Regions from separate parts of the Homo sapiens genome. Here region 2 is linked to region 1. Evidence: fine-mapped expression QTL. A gene starts in region 1. The other region holds a variant in brackets. All regions are shown on one strand. Distances are between the middles of the regions. Region 1 holds the start of FZD7 (frizzled class receptor 7). Region 2 has its middle 100 kb from the start of CDK15.

Evidence for each region. PIP is the estimated chance that this variant, and not a neighbour inherited with it, causes the effect.
Region 2: its variant is the best candidate, but not a certain one, in a credible set for the expression of FZD7 in blood mononuclear cells (TOPMed, PIP 0.62).

Annotation. Positions count from the first base shown.
Region 1 is chr2:202,031,638-202,035,996 of GRCh38, reverse strand. FZD7 (frizzled class receptor 7) reads right to left here and starts at 2,142. Exons shown (of 1, transcript NM_003507.2): 1 at 1-2,142. The coding sequence starts at 1,349. RefSeq lists enhancers at 1,101-1,220, 418-1,258 and silencers at 1,821-1,900, 2,011-2,560.
Region 2 is chr2:201,904,951-201,909,334 of GRCh38, reverse strand. No RefSeq gene overlaps it. Among named protein-coding and RNA genes, the nearest start is that of CDK15, 100 kb to the right of the region's middle. The variant T/C (reference allele first, on the strand shown) is at 1,936.

The sequences.
Region 1 (4,359 bases):
ATACGGAAGAGGGACACGAAGCCGGCCAGCAAGAAGGACGTGCCTATGAAGAGGTAGACGAACAGAGGCGCCAGCACGAAGCCCCGCAGCGCGTCCACACTGGAGAGGCCAACGTAGCACACCCCGCTCAGCAGGTCCCCGTCTACCTGGCCCATGGCCAGGATAGTGATGGTCTTGACGGCGGGCACGGCCCACGCGGCCAGGTGGAAGTACTGCGAGTTGGCCTCGATGGCCTCGTGGCCCCACTTCATGCCGGCCGCCAGGAACCAAGTGAGAGACAGAATGACCCACCAGATGGAGCTGGCCATGCCGAAGAAGTAGAGCACCATGAAGAGGATGGTGCAGCCCTCCTTCTTGGTGCCCTGCGCCACCGTGCGGTAGCCATCGTCCGAGAAGCGCTCCACGCACACGGCGCGGTCCTCTAGAAGGAAGCCGGCCACGTGCGCCACGGCCACCATGAAGTAGCAGCCCGACAGGAAGATGATGGGCCGCTCTGGGTAGCTGAAGCGCCGCATGTCCACCAGGTAGGTGAGAACGGTAAAGAGCGTCGAGGCGCAGCACAGCACGGACCACACGCCCACCCAGAGGCGGGCGAAGCGCCTCTCCTCCTCCTTAAAGTACATCAGGCCGTTGGCACGGCCCGGTTCGCACGGGGCGCCACAATCGCGCTCACCCAGGAAGCGGTAGCCCAGGTACGGGGGCACCTTGAGCTGACGGGGGCATGAGAAGGGGAAGGCGGGACGCCCCCTGCCATCTGAGGCCCCCGGGGGCAGCGCGGTGAAGGGCAGGTCCGGCAGGTAGGGCGCGGTAGGGTAGGCAGTGGGGCCGCCGCCTGGGCCCCCGGAGCCGTCCGACGTGTTCTGGCCCACGCAGATCTCGCCCGCACCGTGCACCGGGAAGTTCTCGCAGCGCAGCCGCTCGGGCCACTGGAAGCCGAACTTGTTCATGAGCGCCTCGCAGCCCTGGCGGGCGCGCTCGCACAGAGAACGACACGGCGGGATGGCCTGATCGAGCACGGTGCACACGGGCGCATACATGGAGCATAAGAAAAAGCGGAGTTCGGGAGAACACTGCACCTTCACCAGCGGGTAGAACTGGTGCACCTCGAGGCCCGCGTCCTCTTGGTTCGTGTGGCCCAGCAGGTTGGGCAGGATGGTCTGGTTGTAGGCGATGTCCGTGCACAGCGGGATGGAGATGGGCTGGCAGAAGCCGTGGTCCGGCACGGAGATGCCCTTCTCTCCGTGGTACGGCTGCGCCCCGGCGCCCGCGGACAGTGCGCCCAGCAGCGCCAGCACCAGGGCACAGAGGCCCAGGGACGAAAGCGGAGCGGCCGCGCCGGGGTCCCGCATCGCCGGCCGCGAGTGCAGCGGTGCTCTCAGCCTGAGGAGTGCGACGAGGCGGTTGGGAGAGGCTTGGATGCGGGGAGGCGCCGCCGCGCCCGACGCATGAGAGTCCTCACGGCGCCGGGGCCGGGCCGTGGGCGGCGTGGAGCAAAGGGCGCTGCCGCCTGGGTGCCCGCGCCGCGAAGGCGCCGCAGACGCCGCCGCCCTGCACTCGCAGGGCCGCCGGGGGCCCAAAACTCGTCAGCCTGGGTTGGGGGCGCCGAGGAGGGCCGCCTCGCTCTCCCCGCGGGGACGTAACGGTGCGGCTCCCTCCGCCGCGAGGAGCAACAAGCGGCTCCGGCACCCTTCAAAGTTTGCCCAAGACTCTGGACCCCCGGCGCACCGCAGCGCGCACGCCCCCCGCGCCTGGTCCGGTCCCCGCTAGGAGAACCCCTGCCGCCGCCGCTCGCTCGCCCCGGCCGCCGCCTCCGCGGTGCTGCCCCGCCTCCTGGCCTCGAGGCTCCGCTCGTCGCCGCCTCCTTCGCCTCCTCCTCCACACCCCGCTCCTTCTTCAGCCCCAAAAGCTCGGCCCCAAGTTTCAGCCAAACGGCCGGCTCTTGCTGAGTCCGATCTCGGCCCCGGAGTCGGGAGCACGGCGAGTTCTTTTTGGAAACCCAGTCACACTGCGTCCGAAACCGCGAGGCGCTCGTGCCCGCGGCCTGGCCCCGGCCCCTCCAGCCCCTCGCAGCCCCAGCAGCGAGTCCTGGCGCCCGCCGCCGCCGCCGCCGCCGCCGCCCGCCGGGAGTGAGCGCCGACTAACGCCTCGGAGTCGCGCTGGTCGCCAGAAGAAGCGTCGGGCTCGCGGGGTTCCGGGCCGGCCCGCCCCCTCCCGTCCCCTCCCGTCCCCTCCCCTCCCCTCCCCTCCCCCCCCATTCACAAACCACTCCGGGGGCGGCCCCAGGCCCCGGCGGCCCAATGGCGGCCTTTGTTTTTTCGGTGGCCGCCTTCGGATTGGGCGGAAGTCGGAAGGGGCGGGCGCGGGAGTGGCGGAGGCGGTGTCCGCGGCGCTCTGGGCGGATTCCTGAGGGGAGGGGCGGGGGACTGGGAGGGAAAAGTTCGGAAAAACTTTTACCCTGAATTCGCTCAGGGACGAAAACGCGCAGAAAGGGAATTTGCTTCAAAGATTTGTTCCTCTTCCTGGTGCACTCAGATGCGCATTCCTGAGCAGGGGCGCCTTCGCCAGCGGCGTTTGAGGGGAGCGAGGACCGCGCAGCGCCCCTTCGGGGAGAGACGTGACCAGGAGTCGCGTTAGGACTGCAAAGGCTGGCTCTGGCGGGGCTTTCGGGTCGCCGGGTCCTCAATGTGGGGTTTGGGACGGGACGAGAAGGGGGTGCGCCTTGCGGATCGCCTCTTTCCCCCCGGACCCAAAGAGTCCACGCGAGGCCACAGTCCCCTCTCCCCTCCCCCGAGTTATAAAAAGGAGGAGGGGCCGCCTCCGAGGAGAAACCCGAGTCGGGCGGAGGGGGCCGAGTGACGGCGGGAGGAAGGACCCCTCGGAGGAAGGGCCCGAAGCAGGGAGAGCGGGGAACCCGGGCTCAGGCCACCCCGCCCGCGCGCACGGCCTGGAGTCTGGGGAACTGGGGTGACTCTAGCGAGGTTTTAAGGAAACGAAGACGGCGTTGGGGAGACTGGTTCTAGAAGTAACCTGAGACCGAGCGCCCAGGAACACTCTGTACGACGCGCCGGGCGTCTCAGTGGCCCCGTGTGCCTTGGTTCTGCGGCGTGTGCCCTTTCGGGATCCCATCTTCGTTGCAGAAGCAACCATTTGATCCTCCATTTAGAATCTGCGTAGGAATGTTTTAATGCGTCTTAGAAACCAGGCTAATTAAAGAGTTTTCAAAACACAAAGCGGGGTTATCCTCGTTCTCGGGTAGCGTTTTCTGATTGGCAAACGTTCTTTTGTTCTCGGTTAAATCTTCGTCTTGAGCCAGGCGCTGGGCGCTCGCGCGCGCTCTCTGGTTACTCCTGCGGGGGTCATAAGTCACCAGGGGGCCTCTCCCCTCTCTCCGGGCTGCCAGGAATATCAGGAATTCCCATGCAGGAAAGTGACATGTTGAGAAGGAAAAGAAAAAAATCAATCAATCAATCTCTCCTCCTCCTCCTCTTTCCTCTGTCTCTCTCTCTCTCTCTCTCACACACACACACACACACACACACACACAGCAATCCTGTGCTTTAAAAAACGTTATTCCTGGCGGAGCCCTTCTGCCTCAGTCCCGGGTGCTGGAGCTCTGAGCGATTTCTGATCAGGTTGAACCTTGGCAGAAGTTGCTGTCTCTGCTGCCTCCCGTGCGCTTCTTCTACAGCAGGAAAAAAACTCATTCTGAAATCGAAGACAATTAATTGGGTTCCCTTCCATGGGAGACTTTGGCTTTCTCTGTTTTTCTTTATTTATTTTCGATCACTGAAGATTGCTGGGAATCGTTCTTTCCGATTCACGGTTCTTTGTCCTTCCCCACTCCTGTTAATAGGTCGAAAGGGCGGAAGGAAGCCTTTGGGCCAAGGCAGAGTGTTAGACTGATCACATCCTCCATCCGGCCCTCAGCGGGAGTCGCCTTCTTCCTCCCAAGCATCAGTTTCGCCCTCCCTCCCGGACCCCCCCACCCTTTTTTTCCTTTTCTTTGGGACATGTGCTGAAGGTAATACGATACCTGCTTTAAAAATGTTTCATTCCTTCTTTGTGTTTTTAAAAGGGCCCCCCTTTTCTTTCTAAATTATTATTTCTATTACCTAACATCGGGGAGTGTTGATCTTCGGTTGAAATATGTTGCTTAAAGACAATGCTGCTGCTTTGCTTTGTCATTTAAAGTATGTGTGGTGGGGGGTTAGATTCCTTTTTTCTCTCCATGAGCTTCAGGATATCCTCCTTTTCTAAATCAAAATTTCATGCTTATTCATCAGGCCACTGATCTAAGTCATCTTTGCTTATTGAGGAAGAAATACCAAGCACTGTCATCAAATAAAATGAAAACTGACA
Region 2 (4,384 bases), 130 kb after region 1:
AGCTAAAATTCATTTAGATCAAAGTCCGGGGAATAAGGTGCATGATCAAGTTAAGTAATACCATTTTAGATTAAAAGATGAGGATGATAAAATTGAGACTCATTTTCTCGTGAGGATTGTGTATGGTTCTGAAGGCCAAAGAGCCTGAACAATGGCAGTATTGATGGGGTAAGCTGGCACTTTTCAAAGAGATTTCTTTAAAAGACAACACGTTTGAAAGCAGCAATTTTTGGAATCTATTTTTTTAAGCCTATTGCCTCAGAGAGACACTGTAGAATAGTGATTAGAAGCATAGGCTCTCAAAGCAGTTCTGGAATCTAAGCTCAGCATCACCATATATAATATCAACTGTGTGACTCCAAGCAAGTCACTTAACTTGTGTAAGCTTCATTTTCTTTTTTCTTTTATTTTCTTTTATTTTTTTTTTTTGAGATGGAATCTCACTCTGTCACCCAGGCTGGAGTGCAGTGGCACTGTCACAGCTCACTGCAACCTCCACCTACCAGGTTCAAGTGATTCTCCTGCCTCAACTTCCAGAGTAGCTAGGACTACAAGCATGTGCCACCATGCCCAGCTAATTTTTGTATTTTTAGTAGAGATGGGGTTTCAACATATTGGCCAGGATGGTCTTGAACTCCTGACCTCAAGTGATCTGCCTGCCTCGGCCTCCCAAACTGCTGGGATTACAGGCGTGAGCCACTGTGCCTGGCGAGCTTCATTTTCTTCATCTGAAAGGGAGGATTATAATATTAACTACTGGCTGGGCATGGTGGCTCACGCCTGTAATCCCAACACTTTGGGATGCTGAGGTGGGCGGATCACCTGAGGTCAGGAGTTCAAGAACAGCCTGGCCAACGTGGTGAAACCCTGTCTCTACTAAAAATACCAAAAAATTAGCTGGGTGTGGTGGCGCACGCCTGTAGTCCCAGCTACTAGGGAGGCTGAGGCATGAGAATCACTTGAACCCGAGAGGCGGAGGTTGTGGTGTGCCGAGATCGCACCACTGCACTGCAGCCTGGGAAACAGAGCAAGACTGTCTCAAAAAAATATATAATAATAATAAAAATAATATTAACTACTTCACAGATGGCTATGAGGAATAAATCAGGTCATATATATGAAAAGCATGAGGTTATGTGTGCAGAACCCCTATTCTACTACCTGACATATAATAAGTGCCCGATAAATTGTGGCTATTGTGTTTCTTCTTTGTCACATTGTGTACACATAAACACACGACTATTCATGCCTAGATGGGAGTAAATCCATAATGTTGATTGTATTTGTGATGTGTATGACAATACTAGTAACTATCATTTATTATACAGTTGTCATGAGTCAAACCCTTTCAAGCCTCATGATAACCCCCTTACAGGCAGGTACTATTGCTGGACCCATTCTTACAGATGAGGAAGTTGAGGCTTAATGAGGTTAAGTAACCTGCCGAAAGGCATTCAGCTACAAAGCTGTGGAGTCAGGATCTGAACCCAGGCACTCTGACACTTTTAACCCTTTCCCACGCAGCAGCTTCTGAAGCCCTGTCAGTCCTCTTCACAGTGACATGAAGACATCACGAGTAGACGTTCAAGTATGGACATTGAAACCTCAGGGGCTGGATTTGAGTTTGAAGCCCAGCTTACTCACTCACCGGTCATGTGGCCCAGGGGACTAATGAAGACATGATTCCAGGACAGCATCTAGTACAGTCTAGTCCTCAGGAAACAGGGACTGAAATTCAACATGGATGAAACCTGAATCAACTGAGTGTTCCATGCTCAGAATGGTTTTGGTCCCCCACCCCCTACCCTTGAGACATATAAGCTCCCCTGGGCGATAGTAGTACAAGTGTTCTGAAAGGCTTTGGTGATAGCCGAAGTATGAAAAAGCAGCCTTACTGATAGTGGAAAATTCTCCTGAAAGTGGGCAAAGTGTTTC[T/C]ATCAGATTATGGCCAAATTCCAGCTGGGGTGAAGGAGGTGACAGACAAAACCACTTAGTGTTCCTACTCAGTCCACAAGCTGACACTCTGATCAAGCACTTTTCCTAGCACGTGTTCTTGGAGAGCAGCTTGTTATCTGAGGCTGGGGGCCGGGGCTGCCTGCCAATCCCCGGCCTGCAACAGTGCTTTCTCATAGAGTCACATTAAGTCTGAATGGTCACAGGGAAACCTAACGTTGCTTGCAGTTTAGTCTCTGGCTGGTCTGGATCATTCATTCATTCATTCATTCATTCATTCCTCTTTCTTCTGCATCTGGGAGACTCCACACCAGGTTCCCGGGAGTGATTCTGATCTTGGGGACATGTGGTGATTCATTTTTAAAAAGAGGCTTATTTACACGACTACATCTGCTACATGCTTTTTTATCTGTTCTTTGTTGTTGCCTGGAACGACACCTGTTAAATGACCTACATTTTGCCTTCTACCTGCCCTTTAAAAGGACAGAGCAACATAAATTTACATGCACGTTGGGTAGAAGGTGCTTTATTTTCCACCAGATAAAGTATATAATATGGAATTGACAATACTCAAAAGTGCCTCTGATGATTTTTGTTAAAATTCTTCTCAACTGCCCAGTTTCTCACCATGAAAAACCAAGCACTGTCCTAGTTAAGTATCACCCACCCAAGAACTTTTACAAATGTGAACTTGCTTTCCTACTTGGTCAGCATCCACTCCCAACCTAGAAATGTTATCCTCAATATTGAAATTAAAATGGCTTTCCTGGTTAGTTATCTCCCTTTTCTCACCTGTAAATGAGAACCTTTAAAAATGATTTCTGAGACACCTTCCAGTGGCCAAACTTGTGATTCTCTGTTTTGTAAGACAGACAAATGTGTGAGTCTCTCTGTGCCCCAAACAGCAAGCCATCATTCTAACCCAAATATTATTCATTTCATTCATTAGCTTAATAAATGCTTGGTGAATGAGCGACCGAATTAATTAATGAATGCCTACTGTGTTCCCCGCCCCAGGGAACACACGGATAAATAAGACAGCTTTTGCCTTTCAGCAGCTCACACTGAAGAGAGAAACAGATGTATAAACAGAAGTGCTGCTCAGTTTAACTTTCTTTTCAGTGAGTTTTATTTACTTATTATTATAATAAACATTTTAATTTATTTAGTGCCTAGTCTGTGTCAGGCATGCTGCTGGGTGTTATACAATGAATCTTCACACTCACTCTACAAAATAGGCATTATTGACCTTATTTTAAAGATTAGAAAACCAAGGTCAGCAAGTGACAGACTTGATCTGGTTGGCTCCTAATCACGTGTTTGTGGTATGTGATTACTAAGTCATATGTGTATGATATGAGATATATGATCTTTACTGATTCTGGAAAGAAAAGCAAAATGGCACCATGATTTGATCTCAGTGGAAGGCAGCAAGTGGTGGTGTTTCCAATTCATTCGCTTAACCAACATTGATTGAACATCTTCTCAATGTCCAACTTACACTAGACACTGGGGATAAAATTAAAAAGCTAAGCATTCTTCTAATCTCCTAACGCTGTCAGTTTTTAAAAAGGATAAAGAAGGCTGGATGTGGTGGCTCATGCCTGTAATCCCAGCACTTTGGGAGGCCGGGGCGGGCGGATCACCTGAGGTTGGGAGTTCAAGACCAGCCTGACCAACATGGAGAAACCCTGTCTCTACTAAAAATACAAAATTAGCCTGGCATGGAGGCACATGCCTGTAATCTCAGCTACTCGGGAGGCTGAGGCAGGGGAATCACTTGAACCCGGGAGGCAGAGGTTGCAGTGAGCTGAGATCATGCCATTGCACTCCAGCCTGGGCAACAAGAGTGAAACTCCATCTCAAAAAAAAAAAAAAAAGAAGAAGAAGAAGAAGAAAGAAGTGTCAACTAATAATTGCAATGAAATGGGACCAATACTATGATGTACATAGCAACAGAGTGCTCTGGGATCCCAGAGAAGAGAGCAACTCACCCTGGGCTGGAGGACCTTTCAGCTGAGCATTGAGGGATAAGAGTTCACCAGGCAGAGAGGATGGAAGAGGGCATTCTAAGCAGAGGGGACAGAAAGTGCAAAAAGCTAGGGATGTGAACAGAATACTGCATTCAGGGAATACTGAGAAATTCCACGTGGCTGAGTGTAGAGGAAGCGAGTGAGCCTGGAGGCTGATGGAGCCAGCTGGAGTACTCAGTTGGGGCCATGCTGAAGAGCTGGTTCAGAATTTATCCTATGACTGATAGAGATTTTTTTAGGGGGGATAGTGACATCATCTGATTTGTTTTTTAGCAAGAGAACACTGGCTTCCGGGTGGAGCAGTGATTATCAGCCCTGGCTACACATTAGAATAATATGGGGAGCTTAAAAAAGTCCTGTGCCTATGTTGCAGACCAGAGCAATTAAACAGGGACCCA